Homo sapiens: one gene and its partner. The main gene of each other region encodes a partner of the protein of the gene in region 2 in a complex. Each region holds a gene or a part of one and is shown on either strand. Other genes may lie near its edges. A codon is read from its position in the direction of its gene.

The links.
Region 1: the proteins of NAA35 (region 2) and NAA38 are in contact, whole or in part, in a cryo-EM structure (PDB 7MX2), measured with the Homo sapiens proteins. Residues at the interface, in NP_001308810.1 of Homo sapiens: Val30, Asp31, Ile32, Thr33, Phe36, Ala39, Cys40, Leu43, Leu45, Glu47, Leu48, Leu49, His50, Asp51, Phe54, Glu58, Ala59, Ala62, Ile63, Glu64, Met65, Met66, Ala72, Gly73, Met74, Gln306, Arg307, Leu309, Pro310, Pro311; in NP_001307854.1 of Homo sapiens: Ala41 (codon at 975), Arg42 (codon at 972), Leu45 (codon at 963), Glu46 (codon at 960), Leu48 (codon at 954), Leu49 (codon at 951), Arg61 (codon at 915), Phe67 (codon at 897), Leu68 (codon at 894), Cys69 (codon at 891), Thr70 (codon at 888), Asp71 (codon at 885), Arg72 (codon at 882), Cys74 (codon at 876), Ile77 (codon at 867), Arg97 (codon at 636), Val98 (codon at 633), Leu99 (codon at 630), Gly100 (codon at 627), Leu101 (codon at 624), Ala102 (codon at 621), Met103 (codon at 618), Val104 (codon at 615), Pro105 (codon at 612), His108 (codon at 603), Ser111 (codon at 594), Ile112 (codon at 591), Glu113 (codon at 588), Val114 (codon at 585).

Annotation. Positions count from the first base shown.
Region 1 is NC_000017.11:7,856,185-7,862,646, forward strand, and holds NAA38 (N-alpha-acetyltransferase 38, NatC auxiliary subunit), read right to left. Parts: upstream 1,376-6,462; 5' UTR 1,280-1,375; coding exon 1,199-1,279; coding exon of another isoform or gene 1,015-1,198; coding exon 831-1,014; coding exon of another isoform or gene 801-830; intron 660-800; coding exon 547-659; 3' UTR 501-546; downstream 1-500. Other genes in the region: CYB5D1 (cytochrome b5 domain-containing protein 1), read left to right, coding at 1,951-2,110, 2,219-2,295, 2,422-2,640, 3,198-3,428.
Region 2 is NC_000009.12:85,937,224-85,944,269, reverse strand, and holds the start of NAA35 (N-alpha-acetyltransferase 35, NatC auxiliary subunit), read right to left. Parts: upstream 3,125-7,046; 5' UTR 2,997-3,124; exon of another isoform or gene 2,865-2,996; intron 2,667-2,864; exon of another isoform or gene 2,396-2,666; intron 2,116-2,395; 5' UTR 2,111-2,115; coding exon 1,987-2,110; intron 1-1,986. UniProt on the Homo sapiens protein: Auxillary component of the N-terminal acetyltransferase C (NatC) complex which catalyzes acetylation of N-terminal methionine residues. N-terminal acetylation protects proteins from ubiquitination and degradation by the N-end rule pathway.

The DNA.
Region 1 (6,462 bases), on a different chromosome or scaffold from region 2:
TGAGCAGAGAGGAGCATCCTTGAGCCCCCTGGCCTTATCGCTTTTGTCCGTTCTTCCTGGCCAGACCTCAGAGATCTGTTCCTGACCCCAGGCACCTCCCCCTCAATAGAGTGGAGGGGCCCAGCCTCGGCCGCCTGCCGCTGCTCCCCTTGGGGACCTGAGCCCGTTCTCTGACCCCAGCTTAGAGGAACTCGGTGTTGCCAGGCCGGGGTGGGAAACAATGGGCCTTCCGGAGCAGGATGACACCCCCTCCCGCCACAATTCTGGAGCAGCAGCCGTGGGAGGGAAGATGCAGGGGCCCACCCTGGGGCCTGTTGGTCCGTCATTCAGCCCTGCCCCCCATCTCTACCCCTGAACTTGAGAGAACCTTTGGCACCCCTGGACATCTTGGTTGGGAGAGGAGGGTTGAGGGTGCTCCCGACTTCAGATGAGCCCTTTCCTCTAGGGATGGGGTGTGCTATCCTGCACCGGCATCCCAGCTACACACAGACACAGGCCCATTCGGTCATAAGTTTAATGAAGTCTGAAAGGTAAGCGCCATCGTGGTCAGAGATACGGAGGCCCGGTCAGACTCTCCCTCTGCACCTCAATGGAAACGATGTGGTGTCCGGGTACCATGGCCAGGCCCAGCACACGGGGCTCCCCGGCAGAGAAGGAATCTGGAAAGAAGGATCAGAGCATCAGGAAAGTAGGCCAGAATCAGTCCCGCCCCTCTGAGCCACGAAAACGAGCCCCAGAAAACAAGGGTTGCAGCCAGGCCCTTAAGGGGAAATGCCTTGCGTAAGGTTCCGCCACATTACCAGGCGGGTGTGCATTCCCCGGGCACTGACCCGACGGCTTGAGGAACTCCTGCGCCGAGCCCAGGATGACATTGCAGTCACGGTCAGTGCAGAGGAAGCAGCCGACCAGTGTCCGTCCATCTGTCATGCGAATGCGCATAGTCTTGTTGAGCAGCGCCTCTAGCTGCTGTCGGGCGCGCTCAGCCGCCGAGTCCTCGCGCTCTCCGTCCGAATCCTGCGCGGGGTGTAACAAGCGCTCAGACCGCGCAGCCCAGGCTGCCCGCCCGCGGAACCACAGCTCCCGGCAGCCCGCGGGGCACTCACACAAAGCCCAGAGGCTGCCGGGAGCTGCAGTTCCCCACCCCCTCCATCTTGCTGCTTGACTGCCCCTCAGTCCCAGAACCAGAGCCCGTGCTAACCCCAGCACTGGAGCTGCTCTGACGCCGACTGCAACAGCCATTCTCTTCTCGTAGCAGCATGGTCGGTCCAGCTCCGGCCATTTGCCCGGAGGCCTCCTCTGGGCCTTTCAACTTCCTAAGCACCTTTCAGGTTGGGTGGTCCGAGATCTCGCGAGCGCTCCCGACCTCTTTCCTTTCGCGAGATCCCCTCTCCTCCCCCTCCTAGTCTCCTCGGCAACGGCACAGATCTCGCGAGCTTCTCCTACTTCTCTAGCGCTGTGGCTCACTGAAGCGTACTACGCCGGATGTCTTAAGATATCGCGAGACCTTTACCTCTGGTTTCTTACACATCCTTTAGAAACTGGAATTTAGCGAGAATACATTCTTTCATACTGCCTCCTCCCTTGTTTTTCTGTCTCAGAGAGATAGTCTGTCCTAAATATCCCATGTAGCCCAGGCCACTGAATTAAAACGGAGCGTATTCGTTCTCTGCCCCACCCCGCAACTCCTGAAAGCGGCGCAACTCAATTACTTGATCCTTATATGCCCCACGCGGGACTCATACTACGTTTCCCGTGAACACGTGCAGTCCAAACCCCGCCCCTGATATTTATCTCAGTGGACGGTGGCCGGAAAAGGACAATGGTTTCCATGTCAGCGGATAAACGCTCTCCCCTCGGCTCCCGGACGCGACGGAGGTCGTAGTAGTAGTGAGTACGTGCTGAGGAGCAAAGGAGTAACCAAGAGATCCAGTGACCGACAGAGCAAGAGCCATGCCGCGCCGGGGCCTGGTGGCTGGGCCAGACTTGGAGTATTTTCAGCGTCGCTATTTCACGCCGGCGGAGGTGGCCCAACATAACAGGCCCGAAGACCTCTGGGTATCTTACCTGGGACGCGTGTACGACCTAACGTCATTGGCACAGGAATACAAGGGTAAGGGCCACACGTTGGGCCGGGGCCGGAGTGTGTGTGTGTGCACGCGCGCGTTTGCCTGGTTCTCGAAGGGCTGGCATTGACAGTGGCTGTGCTGCTCTTTTCAAGGGAACCTGCTGCTGAAACCCATCGTGGAAGTTGCAGGCCAGGATATCAGCCACTGGTTTGATCCAAAGACCAGAGACGTGAGTTATGCTGGAACCTGGGATTGTGGGTAGAGGAAATGGAGAGCGGGGATGGGAAGGAAAGGCGGAGGCTAGCCAGAGCCTAATGGCTGCTCTGACACCCTCGCCCCAAACCCTCCTTTAAAGATCCGCAAGCACATAGATCCGCTGACCGGCTGCCTGAGGTACTGCACCCCGCGGGGCCGCTTTGTGCACGTTCCGCCTCAGCTGCCCTGTTCGGACTGGGCCAACGATTTTGGGAAGCCCTGGTGGCAGGGGTCGTATTATGAGGTGGGGCGGCTGTCTGCCAAGACCCGGAGCATCCGCATCATTAACACGCTCACGTCGCAGGAGCACACACTGGAGGTGAGAACTGGTGACAAGGAGCAGGTTAGAAGGAATGGGGAATCCCAGCAAATCTCCAGGCCGATCTTCAGGGCAACATTTTTTCCATAACCGGTGGGAGTGTATTTTCTGTCCTTTACATTGAGGCAACTGAGGAAAGCACAGCACCTAGGTCCCCAGGGTTGGGAATTCTAGGAGTGTCTGGGTCACAGGGGGACAAGAGACTCCTTTATAAGCCTGGGAACAGCAGTTCATGTATCTTAGTGATGGTGGTCCTTCGAAGCTCTTACACGCCGTTTTGGACAGCAATTGGACTTTCTTTTTAATCTACTCTGTTGCATGGATATAGTGAGGGGACAGTTGACCCTTTATGGCCATCCGGTAGTTAGAAGTGGCTGCCATTAAGATCTGTAGGACTTTAGGGTCTGCTCATTGCATGCTGGAGTTTCAGCTTTTTTTTCCCGGGGCCGTAGAGTACCTGAAGCTGCTATCTGCCAAGGGAGGCACTTTGATCCCAGCGTGTGTATATGTATACTCCATCCAGAATTCTGGGGGTGGGGTGCTTCTGTGTTCTCCAGGTGGGGGTTCTGGAGTCCATATGGGAAATCCTACACCGCTATCTCCCCTATAACTCACATGCTGCCAGCTACACGTGGAAATATGAAGGGAAGAACCTGAACATGGATTTTACCCTGGAAGAGAATGGGATCCGGGATGAGGAGGAAGAATTTGACTATCTCAGTATGGACGGTACACTTCACACACCTGCAATACTTCTGTACTTCAATGATGATCTCACGGAGTTGTAGGCAAGGAGATGTACACTCGTGTAGACTCAAGACGTATTTCGAGTTTGGCTTTTTCTGTGCCTTGAGGAAAAGTGGTGGGGCCGAGGGGTGCCTGGACCCAGATCTCCACTCCTCTCCAGGAGCTAGCCTGTGCCCTTCTGAAGTGTAAAGGCCCTATTCCCTGCCTTCATTACAGTTTGCTCTGAGAAAATTAGTGAATTAATCTTTGGGAATGATACAAGAAGATCAAGTACCTTGGTTTAGGGAGATGTAGAAGAGGATAGTCAGAGTTCAGGCAGAACTGTTTGATAGTTAAGAGAGAGTAGTTCTACAGGGGTGAGGGATGGAAGGACTTTTTTGGCAATGATGGAAATGAGATGTCTGCAGGAAGATGGGATTTACAAAGAAATAGGAAATGTTTATCATTGACCATACAAAGCTGGCTTATCTTACTTGTAGAAGAGTGTTTGGCAGCTGAAACCCAAGGGAAAGAAAGGAAGTGCGTCATTATAGGCAATTCAGGCTAGATATTATACTAGGTACTTCATATACCCTCTTTTTTTTTTTTGCCCCCAACAAAGAGAAGGGGTCTTGCTCTGTCACCCAGTCTGGAGTGCAGTGGCAAAATCATGGCTCACTGCAGCCTGGAGCTCCTGGGCACAAGTGATCCTCCCATCTCTGCCTTGAGTAGCTGGGACTTCAGGTGCACGCCACAATGCCTAATTTTTTAATTTTTTGTAGACACAGGGTCTCGCTGTGTTGCCCAGGCTGGTTTCAACCTCCTGGCCTCAAGTGATCCTCTTGCCTCAGCCTCCCAAATAGCCTCTTCAAGACAACTACCCCATAAGGTGGATTACCATTACTATGTTACAGATAAGTCCTTCGAAACTTTGGAAAGTTTAATAGCTCAAAGCCACACTAGGTAGTAACCACTAGAGCCAGAATGCAAATTCAAGTCTGCCCAACTCCAAAGTCCATGTTCTCTCAATATAAAGGGACCATCTCAATGTCTAATCTCATGTTAACATTTGTAGCCACTGCTCTCAGCAAGTATTTGGGATGTGGCTTTGTCCTAGGATCCCTGCACAATAGGAAATTGTGGTCCTATTGTATAGTTTGCAGTTATTGTCTCTGGAAGGGAGTTTGCAGAGTTCTCCTGTGGCGAAGAGGAGGCAAGGAAGGCTAAGTGTCAGTTAAGCAATAGCTATTGGGGCTACTTCTTTGTTAATCCCATACCCCAGATTTCTCTCCTGACCTTTTGGGGCAAAGAGGTGGGTATTTACTAACTTGAAGGAAAACTAGAGTGGGGAAAAGGCCGGCAAATTAGTGACACTTTGGCGAGGGAGAAAAAGGAGGCAGTTTGCCACTTGGAGAAGATGAGGAAGACAGGGTTGCAAGACGGTGACTCCAAAAGAGGGAGCTCGACAGGGGTAATGTAAACAGAGATGCTAACTAAGTCAGAAAACTCTCCTGGTGACCAAAAGAGAACCACTATTGGGGGTAATGGCTAGATTTGGTCTCCTTTAACTTAAGGAGGGGAGATTTGAGAATGACAGACAGTTGAACTTCCTGGCAGCAGCAAGCAAAAAACAAATCAGGAAGAGTTTAGTGTGTCTTCTGGCAGGGGACACCAGGGCCCAGCACAGGAGAAGGTGGCCCCTGTGAGATACTGGTGGGCTATATAGGCATTTTCTGAGGGGCTTTGGGAGGCATGAACAAAGGTGGAAACATTGCTGTTGGCTTCGGCAGTATCTGAATTTACTGTGAGATGGAGGGTTTAAATCTAACCCCATGGAATGCAGGAGTCCATGAATTATCTAAATCGATCATTTTGATCTTTAATCAACTCTGCAATTATGTGTACCTTGTTTGCTCAATTAAACCCTGAACTATTTGAGAATGAAAGCTATGCTGTTCCTCTAGTGCAAGCCTCAGGGCCTGTCCTGTGCCTACAGGATGTCCCCATTCTGCCAAAACCTGTCCCTCTTCCAGAGACTCCTACTTCAATGTCTCTTGCTAGAAACACATCCCTTTCCTCACACATCCAGTCACTCATCAAGTGTAATCTGTCTCCTAAATATCTCTGGAACCTATCTTCTTTTCTCCAAGTTACCATCACCTCTTGTCTAAACTGCTACGGAAACTTCCTAACCTGTTCTCCCATTTCCACTTCTGACTTCCATGCTGCAATGAGAGTCAGCTATGAAAAACAAACCTAAACATCGAACTTTCCTTAGCTTCTTCAGTGGCTTCCAACTGCTTTTGGAATAAAGTCCTAAATTCAAAGATCTTGTATAAATCAGGCTCATCTCGCAACACCCCTCTTTGTTCTCTATGGCCTAGACACACTGGCTTTCAGTTCATTACATGTCTTGCCTCAGACCCTCACACACTGTCCTCTCTGCCTGCAACACTCTTCCTTTCACTTTCCACCTAGCTGATCCTAAATGTTCCTTCCTCAGGGAGGTCTTTTCTGATTTCTTGGTGGGTCAAGACTTTCTGATAAATCAGTTAGCACCATGCATTTTCCAGAGTTTTTATTACAATTGTAAAATTATGGCTGTAATAGGCTGGCTGCGCTGCTAGATTGTAAGCTCACGAGGGCAGAGATCTTGTTCACATCTTGCTCACTGCTATATTCTCATTGCTGAGCACACAGTTGCAGCTCAATAAATTTTGAATGAACTCCAATGTTAAGTGAACTCATCCGTCTATACCTAGTGGGGGGGATGTTGTGTCCTAGTAGGCAAGGAAGGACCAAGAAATAGGATGTCTGGTTCCTGTGCTATAGTCTCTATCCATAGGATTCACTTTCCTTGCTTCCCCAATATCCAAAACCAAAAGTTATTCCATAGAGGGTCTCTGGCCAGGTGCAGTGACTCACGCCTGTAATCCCAGAACTTTGGGAGGCCGAGGCATGGGGATCACCTGAGGTCAGGAGTTCAAGACCAGCCTGGCCAACCTGGCAAAAGCCTGTTTCTACTAAAAATCCAAAAAATTAGCCGGGCGTGGTGGCACACACCTATAATCCCAGCTACTTGGGAGGCTGAGGCAG
Region 2 (7,046 bases):
TTAATCCCCAAAATTCTCTAAAGTAGAAGCTCTGTTTTCCAGAGTAGAAAACTAAGATTCAGATTAATTAAACTCCAAGGAAACTAAACTAGTAAGTGACAGAGTTAGGACTCCAGCTCATATCTGACTATAAAGCTTACTACATTACTTACTGAGAAGCTACTTGGTCCAAGCCACTGTACTGATCATCAAGGGGAACAAACTTTCAATCTTATGCTCAAATCCATTACTCCTACTGCCTATAAAACAAGCTCAAACCAAAAAAACAAAAACAAACAAAAAACATCAATGGCACTAAAGACGCTCTATAATTCCCAGCATTTAAAATTGTTTTGTGGCCAAGTAAAATTATTTACTGTTCCCCTAACATAAAAACCTCACCAAACTCTGACTCACATAGTTCATCTCAGTCTAGAATAACTCTATCACCTCCCTTTGCAAAAACTTGATCTCTCCTTAAGGCCCAACCCAAGCCATATAACCTTCAAAAACCTTCCCTATTTAGGTTAATAATGACAGCCCCCTAATAGAGATTACTTAAAATCAGTGCAAGATGACAGGTATAATCCACTTAATAGTCTAAGATCTCTGAGCACAAAAACTACACTGTAACTTGACATTTCTTTCTCTCTTCCTTAGATAGACATACATAGGCAGTCACCCAACTCCCAGTCTTACGTCCTTTCCACTGTCTCACTGAGGCTATAAAAAGTGATTTCAAAACAAAGGATGGCACATGATTTATCATTTTGCTTATACACAGCTGGCTCCCTTTCCACCTGCAGGTGCCCCAAGTCTTTACTCCTCCCCTTCAGAGCACTATCCAAACACACCCTACCTATCATCAAAAGACCTAAGCTGCTTGAGACAATACAAGCCATCAGGAGTGAATTCCTTCACCAGTCCTCCTCTGTCACTTAGAAATATACTTTTATCTTCATCCTAACTTCAGTCCTTCCTGTCTCAGTGTGTCCCTGTGCTTTTCCCCAATTTCTCTACTATCTCCTTGATCTCATCCTCTCTTTAACGTTCAAGCTCTCACTCTAGTTAATTTGTTCCTTTCTCTTATCTTCAGTCTCTCCCTAGACTCTTTCCCCTCAAGCAACAAGCATGTTCATTTCTCCAATCATTTACTCCTATTTATTGAATTTACTATGTGCCAGGAACTGTTCTGTATACTAGGGTTACAGAAATTATCTCTGCCCCCACGGAGCTTATATTCCAGTGAGTGAGACTGAAAATAAACAAGAAATAATTGACAATTATGGCTTCTGAAAAAGATAAGCTGTATGAAGAAAATAAAAAGTGATTCAACTGAGGTGGAATTGCAGAGGAGAGAATGAGTGGTTGTTTTGAGGTCCTCACCAGGGAGGTTAACACTTAAGAAGAATTGTGTGAAAGCGAGGGGCAAAGCAATTTAAAAGAAAGAAAACAAAAAATGCAAACACCTGGGAGAACCACCTTGGTGTGTATTACGAAGAGATAAAAAAGACCTGTGACTGGAATGTAATAAGCCTGGCGGGGACAGTGGCACATAAATGAAACCTGAGTGGCAGGCAGGGACCAGATTTTATAGACCCATAGGGAAGGAGGGTGGATTTTATTCTACCTGCAACAGGAAGCCACTGGACAATCTTAAACAAGGAATGATGTGATCTGATCATACTGAAACCTCAAACATACAAAAATACTATTATCTTTTAGATTAACAAAGTGTTTTCCACAGTTAGAAATTACTGCTCTCTCTAACCTGTTAAAGCAAGAAAAATTCAATTTTAAAATACTGCCTCAACATCTGTATTTAATGCTGTATCAAATATACATTTGCTTTAAAGTTAAAATTAGAGGATACAGAATAAGTGTGGCTAACAAACTCAACAAACCACATTTACCTGTTGATTTCATCTAATGAGGTAAGTTTAGAAAGCACAATCGTCATTCTACCCCTTCCAGATGCTGAACTTCTAATCCAAAAATCAGACTCACCTCGACAAGCTTCTTCAAAATCTTGGGTAATGTCCACCCAGTTTGTATTGCTTTTCTCCATTTTTTCTGGCATACTGAGCTCCCATCCTGAATCGTCATCATCTACAGAAGCTTTCATAACCATTATGCCTGTAAAATTAATACTGATGTAAGAGAGAGGATGTAGCTTTCAGGGCAAGAGTATTTGCAGAAATGGGTGTTTGTTTCAGCATAGGATGAAGTCTTAACTAAACTCTTTAAAGCAGAACTCTTCTGAGTCTAAGGACAGTACTGCAAAGAATAACCTTAATGCAATCAAATCGCACGTCAATTAACACTCCTGCTGCTTACTATTAGCCCACCACCTACCAGGGCCCATAAACATTTTGCCTTCCTACTGTTTAAGAAGAAAAATCACAAACCATCTCACCTCTGGCCCGAAAAGAACAACTCCAGAGCTTCCAACTTTCAATAATAGCCACAAAAGACCAAGGCACTATTCAGGGTCCCCTCTCGCAGCCCAGGACCCCATGCGGCAGCTACCGAAGTCAATCAAGGTAGCCCTTCATCTGGCCAGAGCTCGCTGGGACCTCTCCCGGGCCAGAGCCGGCCCGGACCCAGGCAGAACCTCGCCGGGAGCAATGAGGAGCCGGCAGGCACCGCAGGGTCCCGCCGGCCGGGCCTAGGGCCGAGGCACACCTGAGGCGGGCACACGCTTCCCTTCCGCCCTGCCCGGGTCAGCCCAGCCCAGCCCCGGTCCCACTGGGCGCATAAGCAAGGACAGAGCTGTCGCCGCGCGGGAGGGCGGGCACGTCCGGCGCCGGGTCGTCGCCTCGGCAACACCGGGCAAGAGTGGGGCCTCGGCCGACAGCGGGCACTGGGGAGCCCGCCGCTCCTACCTGACGCGCAGCGGGAGGGCCGGGGCCGCAGGGTGACCTGGGGTCCCCAGGATCTGCCACACGCGCGGGGGGCTGCGGCTCTCGGACACACGAGCGAGAGGGTTTCAATGGCTACGCAGGGGCGGTCCCTACCTACTTCTCCCGTGGTCACCCGCGCCGCCACGCACTGTCCGGACCACGGAAATAACGACGCCGCCTCGGCCGCCGCCGCCCCCTCCCCTCTCAGCCCAGCCCGACCGGCAGCGTGCACGCATGCGTATGCCCGGGACGCGCGACCCCGCCCCCTCTCCCTTACTCCCGGGGACTTCGCGCTCCCCGGCCACACCCCCTCCCTCGCCACCGCCTCCGTTCGGCCGATGGCGGCCGCCTTCTCTTCTCGCGAGATTAGAGACGATCGCGAGACCGGAAGTTATCTTTTTTCACCCTCTGTCGGAGTCCTGGGTAGTGGGCGGTTCCCGGAAAGAGGCGGAGCCCGGAGTCTCAGAGCCCGCCCCGTCTGCGCTGCCCTCTGGGAATTTCTTAGAAAGGTGACGCGAAGGCGGAAGGAAACCGTGGAGGTTTGCGTAGACCTTAGTGGTTGCGAGCACGAACGAGCAGCCAAGCTCCGAGAGCAACAGCGTGCTACTGCTGCCTGACAACGGATTTATGTTTCCTATACAGCGCCTGGGAGTTTCGTGAGGAAACATAGATTCAAAATATCTGCAAAGTCAAGCCAGACATTTAATTTCAGATTCTTATATGTTTTAGATTTTTTTAATTTATTAATAAAATGATCAGTTTTTAAATGGGGTTACATAAATAGACGGGCGCAGGTAAGAAGCACATCTTTATCACCACCTGTTCTTTAGGATGGCCCAAAATTAAAAGATGGAAAAGATAATACCAAATGTTGGCAAGGATGCAGAGCAACTGGACCTCTGTTATGTTGGTGGTGGTAATGCAAAATGGTACAACCACTTTGGAAAACTTAACAATCTCTCCTTATAATCATATACTTATCATTCGATCCAGTAATCTACGAATTTACTTAGGAACAAAAACATATTCATACAAAGGCTTGTACGTTAATGTTCATACCAGCTTTGTTTTGCTTTGTTTTTGTTTTTGTTTGAGACAGAGTGTCACTCTTGTCGCCCCTGCTAGAGTGCAGTGACCTGATCTCGGCTCATTGCAACCTCTGCCTTTCAGGTTCAAGCAATTCTCGTGCCTCAGTCTCCCGAGTAGCTGGGATTACAGGCGCCTGCCCCCACACCAGGCTGTTTTTTGTATTTTTAGTAGAGATGGGGTTTCACCATGTTGGTCAGGCTGATCTCAAACTCCTGACCTCGTGATCTGCCCACCTCAGCCTCCCAGAGTGCTGGGATTACAGGTATGAGCCACCGTGCCTGGCCCAGCTTTGTTTTTAATCATCAAAAACTACAGACAACCCAAATGTCCATCAACTGTTGAATAAAAACAATTTGTGGCATATCCATACAATGTAATGAATGTAATTATCAATAAACAGGGATAAACTACTTGACATACAACATGAATGAATTTCAAAAATATATTGAGTAAAAGAAATCAGGCTGAGCTTGGTAGCTGGTAGCTCATGCGTGTAATCCCAACACTTTGGGAGGCTGGCAGTGGAGAGGTCGGGTTGGAGACTAGCCTGACCAATATGGTGAAATCCTGTCTCTACTAAAAATACAAAAAAATTAGCCAGGCATGGTGGCGTGCGCCTGTAATCCCAGCCACTTGGGAGGCTGAGACAGGGGAATCCCTTGAACTCAGGAGGCAGAGGTTGCTGTGACCCGAGATGGTGCCATTGCACTCCAACCTGGGCGACAGAGTAAGAAATCAAATGCAAGAGTATGATTCCCCAAGTGAGACCCCAGGCTCTTAAAAGACATCTATAGTGACAGAAGACAGATTAGTGGCTGCTCAGGGCTCAAGAAGAGACTAAGTTGGATAGAGCTTGATTTGAAGTGATGTAAATATTCTGTTTTCGATTAAGGTAGTGCCTGTGTGGGTGAATACATTTGTAAAATTTCACTGAAGTATATACTTACAATGTGTACATTTTATTGTTTGTAAACCGAACTTCACAAAAATTGGTTTAAAAAATTTTTAAATGGCCGGGCGTGGTGGCTCACGCCTGTAATCCCAGTCCTCTGGGAGGCTGAGACGGGTGGATCACATGAGGTCAGGAGTTCAAGACCAGCCTGGTCAACTTGGCGAAACCCCATCTCTACTAAAAATACAAAAATTAGCCGGGCGTGATGGCGTGCACCTGTACTCCCAGCTACTCAGGAGACTGAGGCAAGAGAATCGCTTGAACCTGGGAGGTGTAGGTTGCAGTGAGCCGAGATCATGCCACTGCACTCCAGCCTGGGCAACAGAGCAAGACTGTCTCAAAAAACTTTAAAAATTAAGAATGCATATCTCTCTTACAGAATAATTTCCCAAAGGCAGAAGTTTTGCCTGTTTTGATCAAAGCTGTGTCGCCAGGACTTAGGGAAGTGGTTGGCCTATAGTAGGTACTCACTAAATACATTTGAGGATGAGAATGTAGAAAAGAGTTACAATAAAGTAGAAACATATATGCTAGTTTTCCAAAACTGTTTAATGATCTCTGCAGGACCATGAGATATCTAGAAAAGGATGAGCTGACTGCATCTGAGTTGTTCAGGATCATGTATAGGTTGTGACAAAAACTGATAGAGGAAAAAACACTCTTTTTTTGTAAATAAGACTGCTTCAGAACTTATATATATTTCAAATATACATATATATCTCAAACACAAATATACACATATATATTTTAAATACACAAATATACACACATATATATTTCAAATACACATTTATAACCAGAACACGGCAGCCAAGTGAAACCATTTTATTTACTAAAACTATAATTTATTTGAAATCCATATTTGATTTCTCCTAACCTCTCTGATTTAAAAACCATTTTCCCTGAGAAACCTTTAACTTCTGATGACATCCAATATTCGTTCTAATGTTGAAAAAGCAACGGGCATTTTAGACATAGACTATGTGATGAATGGATGCAAAGGAACTGATTGACAAATAATGATCTACCCAAACAACATAAGAGTAGATGGCCATTTTTGGAGAGATGGAAATTAATTCCTACAAGTCTAAATCTTGTTGTTGCTAGTAGATAAAATCCTAACTATTACGTGATTCAACACTTGTGTTGAGATGAACTTTAGCTCAATGGCATCATATTGTACTGACACTGGAACCCAGTGTCACATGAGTTTGATAAGAGCAGAGCTGCAAGTCAAAGTGGATTTTACATCAGTTTTACCATTACATAAAATAAATTAAGGAGGACCTACAGGCTGCTCAGAGAAATATTTTCAGAAAAGGAAGCAGAAAGAGTTAACATATCCTACTGTATCATGTGGCAGAAAGAAACATGGCACTGTTTTTGTGAGTTTTTAAATTAAATATGGATAATATCAAAATATCAGTTTAGTTCGTCCTACTATATTTATTTATGTATTTTTGAGACAGGGTCTCCCTCTCTCACCCAGGCTGGAGTGCAGTGGCACAATCTCAGCTCACTGCATCCTCGACCCCGGGCTCAAGTGATCCTCCCACCTCAGCCTTCAAACTACTTAGGACTACAGGTGCATGCCACCACACCTGGCTAATTTTTTGTATTTTTGGTAGACATGGGGTTTTGCCATGTTGCCCAGGCTAGTCTCAAACTCCTGAGCTCCGGCGATCCACCCACCTCAGCAGGTGAATGGCGTGGACCTGGAGGGCGGAGCTTGCAGTGAGCCAAGATCACGCCACTGCACTCCAGCGTGAGTGACAAGAGTGAGACTCCGTCTCAAAAAAAAAGAAAAGAAAAGAAACTCCTCTCATCTCTCTAACAGTTTGAGTGACTTATCGGTAAAGGTGTCTGTGCAACTCCCCTTATCTTACGCAGCTGTGGGTATGTCTCTAGACAAGCACAAAGAGCTGCTTCTCTTGTTTGTATAACTGTGGGTTTGTTTTAGGTAAGATCCCCTCCTTCCTGTGCAGGCTCCCAACGTGTATATGCCTGAAAAGAGGAGGAAACTTTTTCCTGGGAGCTTGCTATTAATACAAAGAACAAAGGGCCTCTGTGCTGGACCCTGTCTGCTTCTCTGTCTGCAGGTGCAGCCTGAGATTTTTTTCCTA